4 separate regions of the Homo sapiens genome follow, and all the other regions are reported to be linked to region 1. The links are microRNA targets in miRTarBase. Many come from high-throughput screens and were not tested one by one. Region 1 holds a microRNA gene; each other region holds the end of a gene's coding sequence.
The links. The annotated mature microRNA hsa-miR-1277-5p reads AAAUAUAUAUAUAUAUGUACGUAU and lies in region 1 at 2,114-2,137, shown strand. An mRNA with a match to its seed (bases 2 to 7 or 8) in the 3' UTR can be bound and repressed. Matches are read on the target gene's strand: a 7mer-m8 pairs with bases 2 to 8, a 7mer-A1 pairs with bases 2 to 7 and ends in A, and an 8mer does both.

Region 1 (3,170 bases):
AAACAAGGTCCATCTCTCATGGAGCTTACATTCTAGTGGGACAGGGAAGAGACAAAAAATAAGCAAGTAAATAAGGTCATTTCGAACGATAAGTGCAATGAAGGAAAATAGGATAATGTTTTCCCAGCACCATTTATTGAGTAGGGAAGCCTTTCCCCATTCTTTGTTTTCATCAGGTTTGTCGAAGATCAGATAGTTGTAGGTGTGCGGTCTTATTTCTGTATTCTCTATTCTGTTCTATTGGTCTGTGTGTCTCTTTTTGTACCAGTACCATGCTGTTTGGTAACTGTAGCACTGTAGCATAGTTTGAAGTCGGGTAGCATGATGCCTCCAGCTTTGTTCTTTTTGCTTAGGATTTGCCTTGGCTATTCAGGCTCTTTTTTGGTTCCCTATGAATTTTAAAATAAAATTTCCTAGTTCTGTGAAGAATCTCAGTGGTAGTTTAATAGTAATGGCATTAAGTCTATACATTGCCTTGGGCAGTGTGGCCATTTTAACGATATTGATTCTTCCTATCCATGAGCTTGGAATGTTTTTCCATTTGTTTGTGTCATCTCTGGTTTCTTTGAGCAGTGGTTTGTAGTTCTCCTTTCACCTCCCTAGTTAGCTGTATTCATAGGTATTTTCTTTTCGTGGCAATTGCAAATGATGGGAGTTTATTCCTGATTTGGCTCTCTGCTTGGCTGTTATTAGTGTATAATAATGCTAGTGATTTTTGCACATTTATTTTGTATCCTGAGACTTTGTTGAAGTTGTTTATCAGCTTAAGAATCTTTTGGGCTGAGACTATGGGTTATCTAGATATAAGATCATGTTGTCTGCAAACAGGGATAGTTTGACATCCTCTCCTCAATCCCATTACTGGGTATATACCCAAAGGAATATAAATCATTCTATTATAAAGACACATGCACACACATGTTCATTGCAGCACTATTCACAATAGCAAAGACATGAAATCAACCTAAATGCCCATCAATGATAGACTGGATAAAGAAAATGTAGTACATATACACCATGGAATACTATGCAGCCATAAAAAAGAACGAGATCATGTCCTTTGCAGGGCCATGGATGGAGCTGGAGGCCATTATCCTTAGCAAATCAATGCAGGAACAGAAAACCAAATACTGCATGTTCTCACTTATAGGTGGGAGCTAAATGATGTGGACACATGAACCCATAGAGGGGAACAACACATGTTGAGGCCTATCAGAGGGTGAAGGGTGGGAGGAGGGAGAGGATCAGGAAAAATGACTAATGTGTACTAGGCTTAATACCTGGGTGATGAAATAATCTGTGCAACAAAACCCCATGACACAAGTTTACCTGTGTAACAAATCTGCACATGTACCCCTGAACTTAAAGTTAAAAAAAAAAAGAAAAATAGGATAATGTGATAGAAAGTTAAGGAGTCAGCTAAGGCTATTTTGAGATGGTCAGGGAAGTATTTTCTGATAAAATAGCACTTGAGCTATGACCCTAATGGCAAGGAATCATCCTATTGGCCAGAATGTAATTGTGGGGGAGTGATATGAGAGGGAGATGAGGAGTGTAGAAGATATCAAAAATGTAGGCAGAGGCTATGTCATGTTTAGGCCTTCATGGGCCTTGGTACTGTTTGGATTTTATCTAATACTTAAGAGTCCATGAAACATTTTTTTTTTTCTAGAAGAATCTGTGTAAGATTGGTAGTATTCTCCAAATTCTGGGGGAGGAATTCAGTGCTCGAAGATATTGCAAGTCCTACAGAAATTTCACTGGCACGTTAAATCTTTAACATTTTAATAATCTCTGGAGTAATTTCATTATTGAGCCTATTGTGATCATATCCTGATACTTGTATAAGTGCCACCTAAATAATTAATGTGCCTTGAGTCCTTTATCTGTCTAAAATGGTTATAATGACCTTCCTCTAACAAACTCTGTGATGTGCACAAAGAATTATGGTTTTTTTTCCTCAGTATCAAGAGTAGCATTCAAATTGCTGTGCTTCTATAAATAGACAACTTAAGATTGAGAAGAGTATTGTATTGAGATTTGCAAATATATGATTGTCTTATTTTACCCTAATTTTTTCCAGCAGAAATGCAGTATCCATTTCTAACCTCCCAAATATATATATATATGTACGTATGTGTATATAAATGTATACGTAGATATATATGTATTTTTGGTGGGTTTAATTTTTTTCATCTTTTTTCATAGTTTTTTTAGGGGCTTCATTTAACTTCTGGTTAAGTCTTGATTTCTTTTATCTAAAGCATGTAGAATTTTAAGAAAACTATTCCCTGAATGTGGTTTTCTGTGTTATAAACTTTTGTATTTGTGCATATTTATGGAGCAATGCTTTGGGGAAAATAACAATTTTTATTCAGCCCCTTGCTTAAATCCTTAATCCTTTTTAGCTATAAAAGTACGTAGAAGTTCTTATCGTCCATTACAGTTTTTTAATGTTAAAAAGTTGAGCAAGTTTTCACATTTAAAGGTAAATATCCTATTGCAGAATAATAGAATATTGCTGATGGGTAACTTTCTTATGCAAATTACATTGTCCCATTTGGCATAAAATTTCTGAGCATCTATCAGTATTCAGAAATCTAAGCCCTTTAGGCTGGGCACAGTGGCTCACACCTATAATCCCAGCACTTTGGGAGGCTGAGGTGGGTAGATCACTTGAGGTCAGGAGTTCAAGACCAGCCTGGCCAACAAGGTGAAACTCTGTCTGTACTAAAATTACAAAAATTAGCCAGGTGTGGTGGCACGCGCCTATAATCCCAGCTACTCGGGAGGCTGAGGCAGGAGAATCACTTGAACCCGGGAAGCAGAGGTTGCAGTGAGCCAGGATTGTGCCACTGCACTCCAGCCTGGGTGACAGAGTAAAACTCTGTCTCAAAAAAAAAAAAAAAAAAAAAAGAAGAAGAAGAAATCAAAGCCCTTTAAGGGCCTTTGATTTATTAATGCTACATTTTCTCATTTGTACCCCTTTAAAGCATATTTTTAAAGAAAAGATGTCATCATTTGGTCTCTATTTCTTTTCTTTTTCAAACAGGAAACAGAGAACACTGCATACAAAGTTGGAAATGAGTCCCCTGTACAAGAATTGAAACAAGATGTGTCTAAAAAGGTTGGAAAGATACAATGTCAATATTAGTTTATAGCAGACATCA
Region 2 (3,170 bases), not on the chromosome of region 1:
CGTACCCGGGCTGCTGAAGGTGCTGGAGACCTTCGTTGCCTGCATCATCTTCGCGTTCATCAGCGACCCCAACCTGTACCAGCACCAGCCGGCCCTGGAGTGGTGCGTGGCGGTGTACGCCATCTGCTTCATCCTAGCGGCCATCGCCATCCTGCTGAACCTGGGGGAGTGCACCAACGTGCTACCCATCCCCTTCCCCAGCTTCCTGTCGGGGCTGGCCTTGCTGTCTGTCCTCCTCTATGCCACCGCCCTTGTTCTCTGGCCCCTCTACCAGTTCGATGAGAAGTATGGCGGCCAGCCTCGGCGCTCGAGAGATGTAAGCTGCAGCCGCAGCCATGCCTACTACGTGTGTGCCTGGGACCGCCGACTGGCTGTGGCCATCCTGACGGCCATCAACCTACTGGCGTATGTGGCTGACCTGGTGCACTCTGCCCACCTGGTTTTTGTCAAGGTCTAAGACTCTCCCAAGAGGCTCCCGTTCCCTCTCCAACCTCTTTGTTCTTCTTGCCCGAGTTTTCTTTATGGAGTACTTCTTTCCTCCGCCTTTCCTCTGTTTTCCTCTTCCTGTCTCCCCTCCCTCCCACCTTTTTCTTTCCTTCCCAATTCCTTGCACTCTAACCAGTTCTTGGATGCATCTTCTTCCTTCCCTTTCCTCTTGCTGTTTCCTTCCTGTGTTGTTTTGTTGCCCACATCCTGTTTTCACCCCTGAGCTGTTTCTCTTTTTCTTTTCTTTTTTTTTTTTTTTTTTTTTTAAGACGGATTCTCACTCTGTGGCCCAGGCTGGAGTGCAGTGGTGCGATCTCGACTCACTGCAACCCCCGCCTCCTGGGTTCAAGCGATTCTCCTGCCCCAGCCTCCCAAGTAGCTGGGAGGACAGGTGTGAGCTGCCGCACCCAGCCTGTTTCTCTTTTTCCACTCTTCTTTTTTCTCATCTCTTTTCTGGGTTGCCTGTCGGCTTTCTTATCTGCCTGTTTTGCAAGCACCTTCTCCTGTGTCCTTGGGAGCCCTGAGACTTCTTTCTCTCCTTGCCTCCACCCACCTCCAAAGGTGCTGAGCTCACATCCACACCCCTTGCAGCCGTCCATGCCACAGCCCCCCAAGGGGCCCCATTGCCAAAGCATGCCTGCCCACCCTCGCTGTGCCTTAGTCAGTGTGTACGTGTGTGTGTGTGTGTGTGTGTGTGTGTGTGTTTGGGGGGTGGGGGGTGGGTAGCTGGGGATTGGGCCCTCTTTCTCCCAGTGGAGGAAGGTGTGCAGTGTACTTCCCCTTTAAATTAAAAAACATATATATATATATATTTGGAGGTCAGTAATTTCCAATGGGCGGGAGGCTTTAAGCACCGACCCTGGGTCCCTAGGCCCCGCCTGGCACTCAGCCTTGCCAGAGATTGGCTCCAGAATTTTTGCCAGGCTTACAGAACACCCACTGCCTAGAGGCCATCTTAAAGGAAGCAGGGGCTGGATGCCTTTCATCCCAACTATTCTCTGTGGTATCAAAAAGAAAAAAAAAAAAAAAGAAGGAGTCGGGGCCGGGCGTGGTGGCTCACGCCTGTAATCCCAGCACTTTGGGAGACCAAGTCAGGCAATCATCTGAAGTCAGGAGTTCAAGACCAGCCTGGCCAACATGGTGAAAGCATGTCTCTATTAAAAATACAAAAATTAGCCGGGCGTGGTGGCGGGCGCCTGTAATCCCAGGTATTTGGGGGGACTGAGACAGGAGAATCCCTTCAACCCGGGAGGTGGAGGTTGCAGTAAGTCAAGATGGCACCACTGTGCTCCAGCCTGGGGGACAGAGCGAGACTCCATCTCAAAAAAAAAAAGGAATCGGACGAAGAACCACAGGATGTTGAAGACAACTGTCTGAAGTATTTGTGAGGGACAGCGATGTGGCCCTCTGTGTTAAGAATAACGTGTCCTGCTTTGGCAGAGAGAAGAAAATAGCCACTGCCCGCTTTCAAGGCAAGATCGACCTTTTCTGTTTTGTTTTGTTTTTCTTTCTTTTTCCTGGCCATGAGGACAAAAATTACTGAGTGGCCCTTAAAGAGGGAAGTTTGTTTTCAGCTGTTCTCTTTTGCCCGTAGGTGGGAGGGTGGGGATTGCTGCGTCCTAGCTAGAGGAATGGCTTTGCTTGAATGTGTAGTGCACACGCACGGGTGTTTCTGTGTGCTAGTTGCTTCTTGCTGCTGCTTCCTGCTTGTCTGGGACTCACATACATAACGTGATATATATATATATATATATAAATGTATAAATATATATTTTATTTTTTTTTAAATCCCTGGAGCTTCTGGTTCCTATCAGTTCCTGTTGTTAATCGTAGAACCGTTGTCCCTTCCCCCATTCCCGTATCCATCATGTTCTTTTTCTTTTAAATATCAATATAAAGGTAAAAGAAGGACTTGTGCTTTCTTAATGAGGAGGGCGGCCGAGCACGGCGGGCGGATCACTTGAGGTCAGGAGTTTGAGACCAGCCTGGCCAACATGGTGAAACCCCGTCTCTACAAAAAAATAAAAAAGAAAAGCGGGGGAGGACTCTCGGAGAGGGGCAAGGGCCAGATTCTTGGGTCTAGTGGGAGAATAGGGTTGGTGCCAAGACAACCTTGGCCTCATCAGAAGATACTAGCTGGATCTAGGTCTTCTAAATGACTTCCTCAAACCAGGAGGGCTGGGTGGGATAGAAATGAACTAGACTTCTCCCTCCTTGGAGTCTGTCCCCTGAGCACCTCACAAATACAACGTCCTAATTTGAGTGAAGGAGCTTTCCTCCCCAGTCACCTCGTCCTCCCAGGTCCCCCCATTTCAGTAATAGCCTCTCAGAGCTGAGAACCCAAGCACATGGTGGTACCTTCCCCCCGTCTACTCAAGTCAGTCCCTCATCAAACACTGTCTATTCTTCCCCCTAAATACCATTTCTACCGCCCTCTTCTCCAGGTTCCTGGTCCAGCTCAAGTTCCATTTTGTTTCACCTGAGCTATTGCCCCAGCCTCCTTCTCCTCCATCCCACCCTGGCTCCAGAGGGATTCTTTCATCATGCAGATCTGATCCTGCCCTTCCCTGCTGAAGTCCTTCCGTAGCCCATTGCCTATAGGCACTATCAAAGCCCCTGGGTCTGGCCTTCATGATCTGATCCCGCCTCCATTCCCACTATCAGCTCCCTCCTTACCCTCCAAT
Region 3 (3,170 bases), not on the chromosome of region 1:
GCAGAGGGTAGGAGAGCTCCACAGAGATCAATATTCGGACTCTGGAGACCATGACAAAATACATTTCATATTCCAAACTAATATATAAACTACCTTTTTTTTTTTCTTTTCAGATTTCCAGAAGCTGTTCTGTCAATAACAAAGTCTCAAAGAAAACCACAAAACCACCAACACTAAGATCATTCTTGAGTCCAATTTGAAAAACTAGGGTCAAGTTCTGCAGAGGCATTGAAAGGACAAGAAACCACCCTGATACCCATCGTGTGAGGGAAAATGCTCTATTCACCATTCCTCAGCTTCTGCTTCTGGTTTCAGAGTTCTCTCTATATTGGAGGGTGTTTTAAAGCTAGAGTGGTCTTTATCCACTTTTATTAACACATCTGAATGTGAAGGTCAAGAGAGGAAAGTGATATGTCCTAAGTCAGAGTAGAGTCAACAAGAAAATAAGACAAACAGCGACTGAGCCCCTGGTGTATACTGGGCATTGGCCAGCTACTGGGGATATGGAGATGAAGAAAACATAACCCTTCTTCAAGGAGCCCAACCTACCAAGGTAGACAGACATATAGACAAATAGATACTTGCATAGAAAAAAAGAGGAAAAGGGGATCAGTGTGACCTGTGTAACTAAGTACCCTATAAACCCTCCTGCAACAGATCATATTGCCCTTTATAGTGGGGATGGTAATCCCATCTGAATTCCACAGGTACTTTGCAGTCATACCACACCCATGTGTCTGTCGGTCCTGACTGTACCATTTATAAACAGCTTCACTTTCAGCAGTTCTCAGCCCTCTTAAGCTAGGGTCATTGTCAGTAGGGATACTGCTTCATAAGCACCAGCAGAACACCAAAGGAGACCATATGGGTGAAAGCAACCAGCACTGCCCTGGCGCTTCATAGGTTCTTAGAGTTTTTATCTTTTACTTTCAGTCTAACACAGCACTGCCTGCTTTTTGTTTTTGTTGCTTGGTTTGTTTTTTTCTTACCGTGTTCACCAAACTTGTGTCCAAATAGCTTTGGGCTGATGCAAAAATATCTATGTGGAAGAGAAGAGTTGTTCTCATGGAGGGCCTTCAGATGAGTGCTATAGACTCTCTAGGCAACTCCAAGAGGCTTCTCAAGCAGGGTGGGCAGTGAGAGCTGCTATGGAATCAATGGACAAACTGACAGGGACTGCTTTGAAAGACAGTACTCAGTTGAGTATATATATTCTCTCTTAAGGGCTAAAAGTTTATAATCATCCCTTAAACACTCTGTGATGGGATCTTCAGGATCATCTTTTGAAGTAAACTATATTTTACAATGTGATATAAATCAAGTGAGTTTTTTTTTTAATTAGGAATTCCCGTAAGTATAAAGCCATTTTAAGATGTACATTTTAGAGACTAGCTATTGTTAAGTGGTCTGTTACATTTGTGTAAACCATAAAGATCTTTCCAGAGGAAGCAAGTCTCTCATACCAGAATATGAAAACACTAGCCCCAGGCTTGAGTAACCTAGATCACATGAAGCTGACTTCCTCTGAGGAGTCTAGGACCTCAGATATAGGTGGGAGCACACAATCACCCTTCTGGAAACAGCTAAGACTTGTGGCTCAGGCGTTTGACCTTGCTGACAAAGGAAGAGGTCAGGGTTGACGAGAGCTCCAGGAAGAATGAAAGTGCCTCTGGAAGGCAGGAAGAAAGTTACTGTAATACTTTATCCTTAGGGTGGAACAAGAGTCTGGGAAAGCTCTGCCCTATAAAGTCCCCTTCCCCATTCCTCCCAGGTCCCAGGTGTGGTGGTATAAGGAGAGTTGGCCCAATCTGGGAGCTGAGGGATCTGAGACATCCATCTACTGCATCAGTGCACTCAGAAGTGAGGATTTTGGCACAGTTATTCATGAGACATCAGCCCATCATATAAAACATGCCTCCAGTTTGGTTAAACTAGGAAGCACTATATAATATTTTAAAATCAGTTACATGTCACTGATAAAAGACTTAGTATTACCATGATGTTATTTTTCTTGAGGCAACATGATGAAACCCATTGTCTACAAAAAATCCAAAAATTAGCCAGGTGAGGTGTGCACCTGTAGTCCCATCTTCTCAGGAGGCTGAGGTGGGAAGACTACTTGAGCCAAGGTGGTGGAGGTTGGAGTGAGCCCAGATTACACCACTTGCACTCCAGCCTGGGCAACAGAGTGAGGCCTTGTCTCAAAAAAAAAAAAAAAAAAAAAAAACAACGATTTTTATGAAAGTTGGAGAACCAGGATTAAGACTGGGTGGGAACTAAGAATGACAGGTACTTTTAACAATACAGCTGGGATGCTGTTGATGACATGAATGAACCCCACTCTTACTGTAGTCATTTGCTCAAGATTCAAAGTCATGAAAAAGAGTAGAATGGACCAAACTTAGGTACTAAGAGTCCCCAGCCTGGCAGTGAAAACAGTATAGTTCCTTTGACTTTAATATGGGGAAACAGGTTCCTGGATTGACGATCTCACCAAAACTATACACAATTTTTTTTTATTTTTTCTCAGACCTTTCAGGGATGAATATATACAATTTCTGAGAAAGAAACCTGAGTACCTTTAGGAAGGGAAAAGGAATGCTGAATATCCCCAAATAACATGTCTTACATGTTTGGTAAGACTTACTGTACCCTGTCCTAGAAGATAGAAGATGCCCTGCCCTTAGAAGACAAAGAGACTGTAGAGCTATGCCTTCTAAATCTTAAGCCACTCTTCAGATAATGGATCCCTTCATGGTCAGCCCAAACATCTCAAGAACTTTTAATTTGTACCGTTTGTCTTTTTTTCCATTTATTTAATACCACAAATTCACTTTATTATTATGAAGCCAATATCTACATCTTCTCACAAAGATTCTCTTAAGAAATGCAGAACTGGCCGGGTGCAGTGGCTCATTCCTGTAATCCCAGCACTTTGGGAGGCCGAGGCGGGTGGATCACCTGAGGTCGGGAGTTCAAGACCAGCCTGACAAACATGGAGAAACCCTGTCTCTACTAAAAATACAAAATCAGCTAGGCGTGGTGGCACATGCCTGTAATCCCAGCTACTAGGGAGGCTGAGGCAGAAGAATCCCTTGAACCTGGGAGGCGGAGGTTGCGGTGAGCCGAGATCGCACCATTGCACTCCAGCCTGGGCAACAAGAGCGAAA
Region 4 (3,170 bases), not on the chromosome of region 1:
GCAGGTATTCTCACAGTGACTCATGAGGCCATTTTTAGTTTTCCCATTTGTATGATTGGACACTGCCTGGAATAGTGTCCTGGAATAAGTGTCAGGAATATCTTCCTTTTGTTCTGGAGTTCTCACTGCCATGAAGGGCAGTATTCATATTGGGAAATGGAGATAACGGAAGATCCAGAGAACACAAATTGGCTTTGAGTCATGTGATTAGGCTTCCTGAGAGGTTCAGTGTCACCCTGACTATCTCCTTAGAAGTGTGGATGTTGAACCAGAACAGTGCTCCAGAAGGAGTGCTCAGTTTCATAGAGCAATCTGTGTTTTTTAGAAAAAGAATCCTTTTGCTAATGTAGTGAATATTGGGGGCAAGTTGAAATTTTGCATTTCCTAACGTCTTTTATTTATGCCTAGATGATGGACCATTTGGATTGTGCAACAAATGAAGAAAACCCTGTGATATCTGGTGAACAGATTGTCCAGCAATAATATTATGTGGAACTGCTATAATGTGTCATTGATTTTCTACAAATAGACTTCGACTTTTTAAATTGACTTTTGAATTGACAATCTGAAAGAGTCTTCAATGATATGCTTGCAAAAATATATTTTTATGAGCTGGTACTGACAGTTACATCATAAATAACTAAAACGCTTTGCTTTTAATGTTAAAGTTGTGCCTTCACATTAAATAAAACATATGGTCTGTGTAGTTTCCGAGATGTACTATATACAGTATATTTTTCTAAAAAAAAATGCCTTGACCCACCCCTATACTTTTTTTTAACGAAATCTGTTTCTTTCAGCTCTGATGGTAGATACAAGTAGTTACTATTTCTGAATGGGTTTTACTGTAAAGAATTATGCAAATTGGCCAGGCGCGGTGGCTCACGCCTGTAATCCCAACACTTTGGGAGGCCAAGGCGGGCGGATCACGAGGTCAGGAGATCGAGACCATCCTGGCTAACACGGTGAAACCCCTCTCTACTAAAAATACCAAAAATTAGCTGGGCGTGGTGGAGGGTGCCTGTAGTCCCAGCTACTGGGAAGGCTGAGACAGGAGAATGGCGTGAACCCGGGAAGTGGAGCTTGCAGTGAGCCAAGATCACGCCACTGCACTCCAGCCTGGGCGACAGAGTGAGACTCCATCCCAAAAAAAAAGATTTATGCAAATTATATCTGCTCTGTAGAAATAACTGTTTAACACCATGCAAGAAGGCGGTTCAACGGTGAAAATTTGGACCTTATATCACTGCAGAGGTTAGAAATACATAATTTTGGAAATATAAGTGCATATTTTTGTAGTATTTTTTTAAACCCAATCCTTTCATAAACTTGAGAACTGAAATTACTTCAGACTGCACGTGTATTATATTAAGAACATTTTTCCAGATATAGAGAAACATAATATATAGAACTAGTCACTAAAAGGAGACAGACACTGAAATCTAGTTTTCATTGGTTTGACAGCCTTTTTTTTTTAAATGTAGCTTAAATTTCAGTACTAACATTCAGTTTCACTTTGGTATTTCTGATCTTTGCAATTTGGTTCTGTTAATGTTAAGGTTTGATTTTTTAAAAAAATTATTTTTCTTAAGAAATTATGTATTAATACATATGGCTCATCGTTGAATACAGCATTCCTAACATTATCCCACATTCCCCCACTCCCACCCGTTATCTTTTTTTCTTCCTGATGCCCACCCCTTTTCCCATAGGTAATGATTCTTAATCTTGGTGGAGGATGTACAAAGTGCGGTTCAGAGAAAAGAATTGGCAACAACAGCAAGAGACTTGGTGTTAGTCTCAGTTTAATTACAATACAAGGAAGAGTTGAGTAATTTGCCGCATCTCAAGACCTTGTATCTCAGTTTTCTTTTTTTTTTTTTTTTTTTTTTTGAGACGGAGTCTCGCTCTGTCGCCCAGGCTGGAGTGCAGTGGCGGGATCTCGGCTCACTGCAAGCTCCGCCTCCCGGGTTCACGCCATTCTCCTGCCTCAGCCTCCCAAGTAGCTAGGACTACAGGCGCCCGCCACTACGCCCGGCTATTTTTTGTAGTTTTAGTAGAGACGGGGTTTCACCGTTTTAGCCGGGATGGTCTCGATCTCCTGACCTCGTGATCCGCCCGCCTCGGCCTCCCAAAGTGCTGGGATTACAGGCGTGAGCCACCGCGCCCGGCCATATCTCAGTTTTCTAATCTGTAAAATGAGTAGGTTAGACCAGCTAATCACTCTGGTACCTTCCAACTTGAAAAAAGTTTTTTCCCCATTCTTTGGTAAATTTTAGATGTGGCCTGAACATTCTCCTGGAAGTCAGAGGTCAAATTATCTTTCCATTTTCTTTTATTTTAGTAAGAATTTCGCAAATGACAAGTGATAACAAAGGCAGCAGGATTTTTCATTTCTCTGTAAATAATGTATAAAATATGTGAACAGAACTATATCTTTCATCTAAGGCCAGTTCAATTTATTAAAAATAAAACTAATGCCTTTTAAAATTGATCAGACCTTTGATACTTGAACTAAATTTTGCATTAGAGACTTTTTAAAAATTGTTCGCTTTTGCTGAATAAATTGCAAATAGAGAAGCTTCATTGACAGTCAGTCCCTCTCTGCTTAATGCAGTTATGGGTCCTTTCGTTTATGGCAAATGACTTACCTGACAAGAGTTAATTTTGCCTCCATTGTATCAAGTTTGAATATTTTCCAAGAAATCTGATTTATTTGGCAGACTCTGAGAGAGAGAACAGATTAAGTGCCGTTTTAAAACTCTGTATTTTCATTTATAATAATAAAATATTTGCCAAAATACAGCTGTTTTGTAAAATTATCTGCACCCTCATCCAAGCTTTATATTTAATAGCCTTAATCACATTTTATGAAGAATGTTAAAGAAAATTTTTTTTTTACTACATCGAAATGAGATAATTAATTTCTTTTTTTTTTTTTTGGAAATGGAGTCTCCCTCTGTCACCCAGGCTGGAGTGCAGTAGCAAGATCTTGGCTCACTACAACCTCTGCCTCCTGGTTCAAGCAATTTTCCTGCCTCAGCCTCCCAAGTAGACGGGATTACAGGTGCGTGCCACCACACCTGGCTAATTTTTGTATTTTTAGTAGAGACGGGGTTTCACCTTGTTGGTCAGGCTGGTCTTGAGCTCCTGACCTCATGATCTGCCCG

Region 2: the mRNA of MYADM is a reported target of hsa-miR-1277-5p. Seed matches in the 3' UTR shown: 7mer-m8 at 1,293-1,299 and 7mer-m8 at 2,253-2,259.
Region 3: the mRNA of FAM120AOS is a reported target of hsa-miR-1277-5p. Seed matches in the 3' UTR shown: 7mer-m8 at 1,208-1,214.
Region 4: miRTarBase lists SPPL2A as a target of hsa-miR-1277-5p. Seed matches in the 3' UTR shown: 7mer-m8 at 598-604 and 7mer-A1 at 1,365-1,371.

The regions. Positions count from the first base shown.
Region 1 is chrX:118,384,288-118,387,457 of GRCh38, forward strand. MIR1277 (microRNA 1277) reads left to right here and starts at 2,107; the gene lies at 2,107-2,184. It overlaps WDR44 (WD repeat domain 44), which reads left to right. Exons shown (of 20, transcript NM_019045.5): 3 at 3,053-3,127.
Region 2 is chr19:53,874,042-53,877,211 of GRCh38, forward strand. It overlaps MYADM (myeloid associated differentiation marker), which reads left to right. Exons shown (of 3, transcript NM_138373.5): 3 at 1-2,394. The coding sequence ends at 457. Among named protein-coding and RNA genes, the nearest start is that of MYADM-AS1, 6.5 kb to the left of the region's middle.
Region 3 is chr9:93,444,641-93,447,810 of GRCh38, reverse strand. It overlaps FAM120AOS (family with sequence similarity 120 member A opposite strand), which reads left to right. Exons shown (of 3, transcript NM_198841.4): 3 at 114-3,170. The coding sequence ends at 200. Among named protein-coding and RNA genes, the nearest start is that of FAM120A, 5.5 kb to the left of the region's middle.
Region 4 is chr15:50,705,113-50,708,282 of GRCh38, reverse strand. SPPL2A (signal peptide peptidase like 2A) reads left to right here. Exons shown (of 15, transcript NM_032802.4): 15 at 409-3,170. The coding sequence ends at 483. Among named protein-coding and RNA genes, the nearest start is that of TRPM7, 20 kb to the right of the region's middle.